3 linked regions of the Homo sapiens genome follow. The protein of the gene in region 3 interacts with the protein of the main gene of each other region in a pairwise test. Each region holds a gene or a part of one and is shown on either strand. Other genes may lie near its edges.

Evidence for each region.
Region 1: the proteins of CDCA7L (region 3) and UTP3 interact in binary tests that used the Homo sapiens proteins (3 or more experiments, as listed by UniProt).
Region 2: the proteins of CDCA7L (region 3) and PBX1 interact in binary tests that used the Homo sapiens proteins (3 or more experiments, as listed by UniProt).

The regions. Positions count from the first base shown.
Region 1 is NC_000004.12:70,686,808-70,690,557, reverse strand, and holds UTP3 (something about silencing protein 10), read right to left. Parts: upstream 2,027-3,750; 5' UTR 1,881-2,026; coding exon 441-1,880; 3' UTR 7-440; downstream 1-6. UniProt on the Homo sapiens protein: Essential for gene silencing: has a role in the structure of silenced chromatin. Plays a role in the developing brain. Part of the small subunit (SSU) processome, first precursor of the small eukaryotic ribosomal subunit.
Region 2 is NC_000001.11:164,786,069-164,789,818, reverse strand, and holds part of PBX1 (pre-B-cell leukemia transcription factor 1), read right to left. Parts: intron 1-3,750. UniProt on the Homo sapiens protein: Transcription factor which binds the DNA sequence 5'-TGATTGAT-3' as part of a heterodimer with HOX proteins such as HOXA1, HOXA5, HOXB7 and HOXB8. Binds to the DNA sequence 5'-TGATTGAC-3' in complex with a nuclear factor which is not a class I HOX protein.
Region 3 is NC_000007.14:21,939,245-21,942,994, reverse strand, and holds part of CDCA7L (cell division cycle-associated 7-like protein), read left to right. Parts: intron 1-2,679; exon of another isoform or gene 2,680-2,733; intron 2,734-3,750. UniProt on the Homo sapiens protein: Plays a role in transcriptional regulation as a repressor that inhibits monoamine oxidase A (MAOA) activity and gene expression by binding to the promoter.

The sequences.
Region 1 (3,750 bases), on a different chromosome or scaffold from region 3:
ATGAAATCCATGTTAACATTAAGCCCATTTATTAACAAGTATCTGGCCCAATAATTATAGTTAGGTAAATAAAATACTTCAGAACTATTTTATAGGCTGCCTTACAAATAAGATAACTGTCAAAGATGCATTCTCTTTATGTGAAAAGTTACACATGTTCTAAGTTTAACACTCCACAATGAACTGTGAAATTTCCCTAAGCTAATACTTAATATTGGAAAACTTCAACAGAATATTGGAAAACTTCAACATCATCTCTTTTCTCAAGCACCTTCATATTGCTCCCATAGTTCTTATAAATTGTCCAATAACCCAGACAAATTTCCTTGTGGACAAGAATTTTTAAAATTTAAAGTATTATATATTAATACAATGACTTTAGTTAAAAGTAAAAATTTATTGATCCAAAACTGCCAAAAACCTTATGCTAAGCAAAAACTTCATTTAAGCTTAATGCTCTTTTTAACTCCTGCACGAATGCCAGATAATTCACCACTATAACGTTGCTCTTCTTTACGAACTTCACGAACCTGGCCTCTTCTTCTAATTTTGGCTCTTCTGAACTTCTCTCTGTGTTTCACTCTGGGATTGCGATCAATCTTCTTTCTCCTAGGAGTAAGTCCCCTATTTTTAGCAATTTGATAGGTAATAGCTCTCTTTGCATTTTGATCTTCAAGAGCCTGTTCTTCAGTGCTATTTTCTTCTTTCTTTCTCTTTAGCTTTTGCCTGTCTTCTATTTCTTTATAGTACTTCAGTTTTGCTTTTTCATCAAAATCAGAATCATCAGAAAGATCTGTAACAGCACAGGCAGCAGCAGAAGTCTTTGAAACAGACTTTGGTTTGGGCTTGGTGGATTTTGCTTTTGGAATCAGTTCTTTCTTTACAGCATCATCCTTAAGTGTCAACAGATGACGAATTTCTGAGGACAGCTTCTGATCCACAACGGACAGCTTGTTGATCAAATTTCGGTAGGTAACAAGCCTTTCTATGACAGGATGTCCATGTGCTGGGACTCTCCTAGCTTTCAGGATCAAATAAAAACTGATGTTCGAGCAATAATTCAAGTAGAGGTTGTACTTGGTCCTCAAGTATTGGCTTCCTTTTCCGGGTGGAATGATCCCTTGTTCCACCAACTCTAACAATGGCTCCAGCTCATCCTTAACCTCTGTCAACTTGACTTTCAGGTCTTCTATCAGCTCCAAGAGTTCTGGTGATTCCTTTCGCAACATTTTCAGCTTCTCTTTCACTGAAACTTTAGCCAAATCCTTCACGACCCGTGTCTCAGCCTCATCTACCTGAGGCACTGGTTTTGCAAAGGCCTCAACCCAGGCGACACCAAAATCATCCTCTTGCAGCGCTTGGGCTAGGCGCCGCTGAATGATCTGTGCCTCCTCCTCCTCCTCTCTTTCCTCCTCCTCTGCCTCCTGTTGACTCTGCCGGCCTCGGGACTTGGAACCATAGTCCGTGTCATAGTAAAGTTTTTTCCTCTGACCCCACGACAAACTGGGATCCACAGAGGCCTCAGCTTCACTTTGCACGGAGCTCCCACCATCATCATCGGCATTCTCCTCCTCCTCCTCCTCCCCCGCATTCCCTCCATCTTCGTCGTCCTCATCGTCCATATCTAGGGCTAGCACCTCCTCCTCCTCCTCCTCGCCATCCTCCTCGTCTCCACTCTGTACTTCATTCCAGCCCTTAGCTAAGGCGGCCCGGGATCGTGCCTCATGAAAGTCATCTACCTGATCTTGGTAGTAGCTGGTGTCCCCTGGTGAGGGTGGCAATCCTAAATCATCTCCATTTTCGTCGGTGAGCGTGGGACCTGCCTTGGCTCGCACAGCTGCCCACTTAGCTGCTCCGCGCCGCCGGGATCTCCCCACCATGGCTCACAATCTCAGGTTTTACAGCGACTCCGGACTTTCGGCCACCACTGACTTCGGCGCAGGAATCAGGCGCTCCGGTAACTCGTGGCTCTAAACAGCAGCGCGCTCCCCTACCACCGGAGTTTGCAGACTCCTGATCGGCTACTGGAATTTCCTCTTCCTTCCGGCCCCCAGCATGCTCTCCGCGTGGCGTACGATTGAGGACTTCCGCTCGGTCCCTTAGTCGAGATCACGTTGATACCAACTTCCTTTTCACTGTGCCCTTTAACGCCAGTCGATTCCGGTGAATTAAAATCTTTCCGTGTGGAAACGATAGGATAAGGAAGTTCCGTTCCACAGAACGCTTTCTCGGGCTAATGCGCTTACTCTCGAGTGCCTGGGAGTGGCTGGGGGACGGAATCCTGACGGCACCTCCAGGCGAGGTCCCGATGGCCAATAGAGGGCGCTGCGCTTTACGCCCCGGAGAAGTCCCGGGGGCGTTCCATTGAGGTTTAACTGCGTGTGTACCCGGCGCTTGCGACCGGCAGTCTAGTGCTAGCGTAGTTTTCCTGCTCCCTTGTTTTCTCTTTTCTGCTTATCAGGCTGGAAGTTAATCAGATTGCTTTCCTCTCATTTCACCCCCACCCCCAATACCATATTTCTGGGTACCACAGCCTCAGGCAGCGCCGCTGGACTCCAGAATCCCACGGGAGGTTTCCGGGCGAGAGCGCAGGCCGGGCCTCCGGCTCGGGTTTACTCATCCCCATCGCCCTCTCCCTGCTCACAGGGCTCGGTGACCCGCTCCATGGGGATCGATAAAGCTAGATGACCCCGAGGCTGACAGTGGGAAGGCAGAGCCCCGCTGCAGGGTCTGACTCTTCTCAAGGAAGTCTGCCCTGTAATGTTAGAGTAATTCAGGGTGTAAGTTTTTAGGCATTACATATGTAAGGTTCAGGGTTAGTATTATTATACCTTTTAATGTAGGTAGTTGGAAGCTGAACTTTTGATACGTTGCTAAAATTAATGGTGACATGGCTGGGCGCGGTGGCTCATGCCCATAATCCTAAGCACTTTGGGAGGCCGAAGTGGGTGGATCACTTGAGGTCAGGAGTGCAAAACCAGCCTGGCCAACATGGGGAAACCCAGTCTCTACTACAAATACAAAAAATTAGCGGGGCGTGGTGGCGGGTACCTGTAATCCCAGCTACTCGGGAGGTTGAGGCAGGAGAATCACTTGAACCCGGGAGGCGGAGGTGGCAGTAAGCCGATATCGCACCACTGCACTCTAGCCTGGGCGACAGACAGAGACTCTGTCTCAAAATAAATAAATAAATAAATAAAATAAAATTAATGGTGACAATTTCTTTTTCTTTTGTTTTTTGTTTCTTTTTTCTTTTTCTTTTTTTCTTTTTTTTTTTTTGAGACGGAGGCTCGCTCTGTTGCCAGGCTGGAGTGCAGTGGCAATCTCGGCCCACTGCAACCTCCGACCCCCTGGTTCAAGTGATTCTCCTCCCTCAGCCTCCCGAGTAGCTGGCATTACAGGCACGCGCCACCACTCCCAGCTAATTTTTGTATTTTTAGTAGAGACGGGGTTTCATCATGTTGGCCAGGATGGTCTCCATCTCCTGACCTCGTGATACGCCCGCCTCGGCCTCCCAAAGTGCTGGGATTGATTACAGGCGTGAGTCACCGCGCCCAGCCAATGGTGACAATTTCTTTTCAGAAAGTATAGTGTCATTAGGTTAATAAAAATAATGCAAAATGTTAGAAAAGTGATACTTTGAAATAAACATTTTCCAAGTGCCTAAAGGTGTCCGAAACATTTTGAAATTTTTACAAGATTTTAGAAAATAAAATTAAATTAGAAAGTTGTGGGCAAAAGTTATGTTCT
Region 2 (3,750 bases), on a different chromosome or scaffold from region 3:
GCTGGCAGGAACATTCCCCACGAAGCTGAGGCTGGTAACCCTTCAGCTGGGTGTTAATGCCTTCAAGTGGGTCCACCTGGCTACTCCACACCCAACTGGTCCTGCATGCGGCCCAACACTGAGAGATTTTAGGACAACCTCTGGTCTCAACAACAACAGCAAAGCAAAAAAGAATGATGTCCTATTAATGGTCAGGACTTGCCTTGCCAGGGCTAGTGTTAAGCACTGCCTACTTGAGCTGACATCAAGTATCCTACCTCCTCCAATCACATGGGTACCCCAAGCGGCCTCATTCATTCCATCAGCTTATTCCTCCAGCCAAACTCAGTGAGGTATGAAAGAAGGGAGAGGCAAGGCAGAGAGACAGTTCTGATCCTCGCTCCTCCAGGAGCTACACAGGTGATCACGCACACATCACTATGAATATTTCCCATATACCTAATATTAACCTCTGAGAATATTTCCTCTTTCCAACCCCTCTCAGTTTCATGCCTCTGCTCCATCTTTTTAAAACACCATCTTTTTAAAATAGTCAATGGGAAGCACAAACAATTTCACACAAACTCTACACACCTCCTAATTAATACATTTCTTGGCCTTCAAATCTAACTGGTTTTAAATAAAATAAGAAAGGAAATTGTCAAGGCTGGCAAAGAACACTGAAAGGATAAACTGCAAGCCCCTACCCGCCATGGAAGTTTCAGGAGGGTTGCAAAGCTTAAAGCATAAAGCATACTGCCTCTTTTCTTTCAGGTATGAAGGATACATTTAATTGGGCGCAGTGGTGGTGGGTTGGCTGGGGCAAGAAAGTGTTAGTATTTCGCTTAGCTTTCACATCATTTTGTGAATCCTGCAAATAAATACTCCCTAAAAAGAAATTTGAATTCACTATGAGTTAATAGACTTAGTTTCTAAATGTGGCCAATTAGAAATTGATAAGATAGATACAATGCACCACGGCATAAATATTGCTTGCATTTACACTTAGAGTTCAAGACACATAAATAGGTCCCCAATCAGAGTTCTGAAGAAAACAAAAGAATGAAAAGAAAAGGGCGGGGGGGGGAGGGCGGCGGGTAGAAAAACCAACAACAGTCATTTCCAAATTACACCCTTTAAATTATACTCAAATTATGAAAATAGAAAATGATTGTGCAAAAACCCAAAAAAAATTTTTTTAAGGAACAATATGAACAAGGGAAAACCTTAAAAGAAAACCATCTTGCACTATTTTGCATAGAAAATTCAGTTCTGGTGGATTTGGGCTGTGTCTGTAATGCTTGGAGGGGACAGGGATGGACCAATAAACAACCTTGCATGCTCATATTTGTAGCCAGCGCAAGGAGAATCCAAATATACCACTATTAAGAATGGGTGTTGGGATTCACTGATACACAAACTGTTCAGCTCGGCGGTTAAAAAAAAAAAAAAACACCAACATTAAATAAATAAATGAAAAGGGTGATATGTCTAAGCAGAACTGATGCTACCTATTTATTGCTGGAAGCCAGTACTCTGGTGAGTAGGAGACAAAATGATTATTTAAAAGCTCCTTTTTATCTCTGCAGCACCATGCAAGACTCAAATGAACCTTTCGCCAGGACACCAGAGATGTTAACACTCATCCTCCAAGATCCAATTTCAACCAGCGGAGCTGTTACCTAATCCAGCAACCATCACATATGATCAGGTTCCTGCTTCCCTGATGGGTGCCCTGCGCTCTCTCCCTCCCCCTCATCTCTTCCCTCCCCACCCCAGCAGCTTTTTTCTGAAATAGGTTTTAAAGGGCCAAATCCCTTGTTTGTCCTCATGCATATAGGGTTTTAATGGCCAGGCAGGCCCGGACGCGTCCACTACCCGAAAAATGTCATTGATTGCAGTGGATATGCAATCTGCAGAGGGGTTGCGCCCATGAAGATATTTAACCCATTTGGTAATCATTCTTACAGAAAGAGTTTCCTTCCCACAAATCCACCCAATTATGGAAGAGACCAGTTGAGACAGGTAGGTGATTTATACAGGAATTGTCACAAGTCCTTTAAAAAGCTTCTGATGTCACATGTACCTTGCTGCCATCGCTTGCCCTGGGGTTAATTCTTTGGTAAAAGTCCTAAGATAAAGGGACTGTCACAGCATTGTGGGAGCTGCTCTCACCACTTGTCTCCTGCTGTTCTTTCTTTCTTTTTCTTCACACAAGGAGAAAAACAAACCAAACCCAAAGGCATAGTCAAGATCATCCTTGGCGGGAGGGCCGTGTGGCGGGTTGTTTTGTCCTTGGCTGAGTGACGTGGGTCCGGAGCAGCTCCAGCCAATGCCCACTAGAGGGCACTCTTTCTTCACCAAGGACTGGTTCTCCAGGCGGGCGGACAGTCAAGTGTCCAGGTTCATGCTGGGGGAATGCCTCTGCTCAGATTCAAACTTCCACAGGTGGGGGCAGGTTGGGAGGGGAGGAGGGCAGATCTACAGGGAGGGTGGTCTTCAGATTTGGACAACAGTCCAGGGGCCCAAAGCTGAGCTGAGAGAGAGAAACAGATAAAGAACAAGACAGAAAGCAGAGGCAGGTGGTCTGGGGAAAGGCACAAGGTAGCCTCCCAACGGTGTGTGCAAAAAGGCAGGCTCTCTCTGGCTGATCTCTTTGTTTGATTTGTAGGCACAAACCTCCATGCAGAGTGTTCTATTGCCCAGGAGCTCAGTCTTTACCACATCCTACCAGAAGAGTTAGAAAAGAGAGACCAGCTCTCCCCGCCTCATTCCCAAGTCAGCTATGCAGTTTTAGGAAAAGAGCAAAATGCTTGCTTCCTGAGAGCATCAGAGTTATACCTTTTATTTGTTCATAAAGTACTTGCACGCACTGAATTACATCACCTTACAAAACATGAAGTAATGTTCCAAACTTACATAGCAGATAACCGAAGATTATAAAGGCAAAGCACATTTCCCCAAAATCAAAGCAAATGAGACACAGCCGACACTGAACTCTAGATCTTTAACTCTCAGACACTTCAGTCCTCTACAATATTGGAGTTCTGAATCCTTTTCACAACAGGCAGCTACATGGATGTGATATCTATTCTGTGCGTGTGTGTGTGTGCGCGCGCACACACACACACACACACACACACACACACACACACACAGTCTCTTCTGATGCCCAAGGCACACCGATACTCTGGCCAAGAAGAAAACAATCAGATAGTAATGGAAAGAAGGAAGTTTTTTCTATTGATTTCCTAATTTCTTTTAATTTCTCTAAATCTGGTCCTTTCCCATTACCTCTTTCCACCATCATGGTTAGAGCCACTGTATTGGGTGATAGAATGCCCTCTTCTTTCTCAGCCACAGAAATCCACTTACTACAGTCCTATTTCATTTTAAATCTCAGCTCAAAATCCTTCATGAAATCTGCCCTGACGAGAAGAGCCGAAAATGATCTCTAAGCCTCTGAGGCACCAGGGCACGTACTGCCTAGACCACAGCCATGGGGCATCTCAGGACATGCCAGGGCACACCTACCATCTTGCCAGCAAGACTGTGAACTCCTGAAAGGCGGTTCCCCACACAACCTCACAGGGCCCCTGACACTAAATGTCTGTTCCAATATTTCTTAAGAGCAATATAATAAAGAATCAAGGAGGGAAGATACGGGCTGGTGAGATCCAAGGATCTGTGCCTCAGCTTCCTGTTCTCAGCCAGGCAGCCAATTCCCTGTATGTGCTCTCTTTCCCCCTGCATTCCAGTTACAAGTTGTAC
Region 3 (3,750 bases):
ATTTGAGAAGGAAATGATGCTAAATGTTCTTGTAAATAGGCAGGAGCACGCTGTTGAAGGGGTAAAGGGGTATTTTTCTGGTATTGGTCTCTTAGCTGCAAAGTGCTCCCATCTGATCCTGTTGTTTAACATGTAATTCCAGAGCCCCAGAAGCTGGTCACAGAAAGGACAATGATTTGCCACTCTAATAGTCTTGTATTTAAAACGCTCCTTGGTTGTTCTGTGTTCTGCTGGCTACCCCATCCATAGCAGAGCAGGATTCTCAAAAATCAGGCGAAAACCTCAGAGATCATAATGATTCTGATCAGGTACACAGGCCAGGAAACAATGAGATAATTGTGGCCTAAAACAATTACAAACATTAGAGTAAATTAATGAAAAAGATTAGAACATCATTGGAATAGAATAAGCCAGGCATTACATTTAAACTGCTCTTGAGAGTTTTCCTTTACTCAAAGTTATGTTTTAGAATATTTACCTCCAGTATACAGTTTTGTTTTAGAAAAGACTCGGCTTTATTCACCAAAATGGAATAGATTACAGGCTACTTAAAGTAGGTAGGGATAGAGATAAGAAAATACTACTGGGGCCATTTTGTTCTTTTTGTTTATGAAAAGCAGTGCTTTCTGTAGTTTTTTTGAAATAGGACCATTCAGAGGCATATTTGGTAAATACCACTGAAGTTAACACTCAGAAAAATGTATCTTCCATAGTAGTAAATGCTAGCACCCTGCATGCAGCACAGAAATAAAGTGTGGAGTCTCACAGTGCAAGGGGCCTGAGCTTTAGTTCAAATAAATCGTTGATGTTTCCTGCCTGTTTTCCTTCATGATCATCAGCTGAGGATAGAGGGCTTGCTGACTGGGTTAGTACACTGATCAGATAGTCAGTTGAGCACCGGTTATGTGCTAGGCATTGGTAGGGTGGAAGAACAAAGACACAGAAAACACGCCTCTTTCCCCACACTCTCTACCAGAAGGCCATGCTTGAACTCCCTTCCTCTTCTGCTTTTGCCAGAGCTCAGCTGGCTCCTGCTCTGTGCTATGGGGACCTGGGGGACCTTGGGTTTGGAGAGTAGAGGGAGACCTTAAGAGCCATCCTTTTTTGCCCCCAAGGAATGGAAACTATCACTTCCTTTTAAAAGTCATGCTGTGCTAAGTACTTAAAAGTTATCAGATTTAATCCCCACTGTAGTTCTGTGAAGTAGGTTGTGTTATCTGCCTTTTAAAGATAAGGCTAAATTGACTAATTTGCTCAGGGCAATTTGTAAGGAATTGGCCCTTGCTGCTGGAATCACCGGGCCTTGGTGAGTCAGGAAACTTGCCCTGTTCCCTCCTCCCTTTAACTAGAAGGGCTGGAGTGTTAACAGCAGCTAGTCTGGTTCTTTTTTAGGAACTCACCAGATTATGCTTTATACTGCCTGTAAAAGTCAGTTTGGGAATGTGAATAAGATCCACCAAGCTTTTACATAGGAATGACTTTTATGTGAAATTTGCATTGTACAAACAATAACATGTTACCGTAAGCTGCACTGAACCACTTCTCTGCTTCCCCTACTCTCCGTGCCCCATTTTCTGCAGTTTCCATGAAGTGTTTGCCTGTAGCACAGTCGTCATCTTTGTCTAACCTTTACAGTATGATTGCTGTTGGAATCTGCTTTCCTTAGCACTATCAGCATTACTTTTCCTAGTAGCGTAGAGATCTTTACAGTTTTCATTTTTAGTGACTGTCTAGTGTTTCTAGATGTGTATTTTATGTATTTTCTGTTGAAAAAATATTTTTTTCTTTATTAGAGGAAATAAATATCTCAGGGTGGTATACTGTATATCTTACGGCTTGTGTTGGAGTCTGCACTATTTTTAATAACTCTTTATAATGTATTTAATATCTCATAAAGGGAATGTGCCTGATTTTCAATGGTTAGGAGCCTCTGACACATTGTTTTCCTAGGGCATTTCCCCTTTTGTTGCGCTATATTAGCTGAAAGAAAGCAGTTTTTGCTGAGGTTAGAACCAAGCTTATGATAACTGGACTGAAAGAATGTTGTCTCCTTGAACTTAGAGCATCTCATAGAATGTTCTAGTTGGGGGGAAAGTGGAGAGTAGTCCCAGAAATCTGTTCTTTACATCCGGTCTGCCTAGAAAACCAAGAAAACCTATAAATGTGTCAGTGGACATTTAGTGGAAGTGACTGCAGATTAGGGCTATGGGGAATTTGTGGCAAGTTGGTCTCATTGACTTGGCGGAAGGCAGGGACACCCCATCCACAGCGCCCACATTCATGCTTCCACCTGTGCATCTACAGCAGGTTCTCCAGGGTGACTGCATCCTGCAGCTATGTAGGTTACTGCTCCTGGAAGTCTTCCCATCCATTGCCCCCACCGCTGGCTCAGGTGCTCGCCCTGGGAACTTCTGGAGTACCTGGGCTGACTTCCCTGATCACATTTATCATACCACACTGGAATTGTTTAAAGATTGTTTCTCTTACCCTACCACTTACGACTCAGTTTTCATCAGCTCTCTTAGCATGGTGTCTGGCATATATTTGATGCTTAGGAGACGATGTCCAGCATGTATTAGATGCCTAATAAATATCCATTGAATGGATGGAAGGGCAAAGTAGTATTGTTAGTAATATACTCTTTTAATTAACATTTATATAGCGTTTTCTACTTTTCAGAGCACTTCGCAGGCATAGTTTGGAAGTCATCAGGGCTGGTTCTTTTCCTTCCAGGTAAGTGGTGTAGGGTTGCACTTTCCTGGCCCTGAAACAGTCAAGGCTATTTGACTTGCTTTGGCCAGTGGAATATGAGAAGTACTATATGTCACTTCTAAGTGAATTATTTAAATGCCAGCATACCACTTACTGTATCTCATTCCCTCTGCCACTGCATCTGTCAGCATTCTGCAGAGTGGTAGCTCTATCAGCCCAGGTTCTGGTGTGAGGACAGTGTGGAATAGAGCCTTGGGCTGGCCTGTGATGGACATGTAATGTGAACAAGACGGAAGCCTTTTTTTTTTTTTTTTTTTTTGGTTTGAAGCTATTGATTGAGATTTAGGGTTGTTTGCTACTGCTTTATAGCTTGTCATATCCTAACAGACCAGGGTGCTCCTATTTCAGTTTTGGATTCAATCACTCTGTGGTTGTCATCTGAGTGATCTGGGGTCATGGTAGTCGTGGTAACAAACGTGGGTGGGTTTCTTTTTGATTGTTAGAGTGATGAGGGTGAGGGGAATGCCCCTGGTAAGTGGTTTGGAGTTCAGGGGTATTAAGTACCATGTGGCAGGCAGGAGAGTCCTACAGGATGAAGCAGTTGTTCTGTCCAAAACGTCAGTTGCACCTTGTTGGAAAACACTGAGAACAGACTTGTCCAATTTGATAATCTTTTAGACTCCAGAGAAATCTTAACATTGGCTTCACATGTTCTATCTGCTGACCTCCCTGGAGGAGGAAATTACTTCACACTTCCCAAGTGATTTGGTTCACTTCACTCCCAGGATCTCTGCCAAAATTCCAGTTCATTAGGTACTCATCTGCTGAATAGCTCTTCTAAGACCTGTGTAAATACATATCTAAAATGACTTCCCATTTATTTCTTCTCTTTTAAACATAACATTGACTACCCTGTGGGGCTTTTTATTGTGGTAAGATATACATAATAAAAGGTACTATTTTTAACCTTTCAGTGTTACTAAGTATAGTCACAATGTTGTGCCGCCATCACTGATCTCTCATGAGCTTTTTCATCAT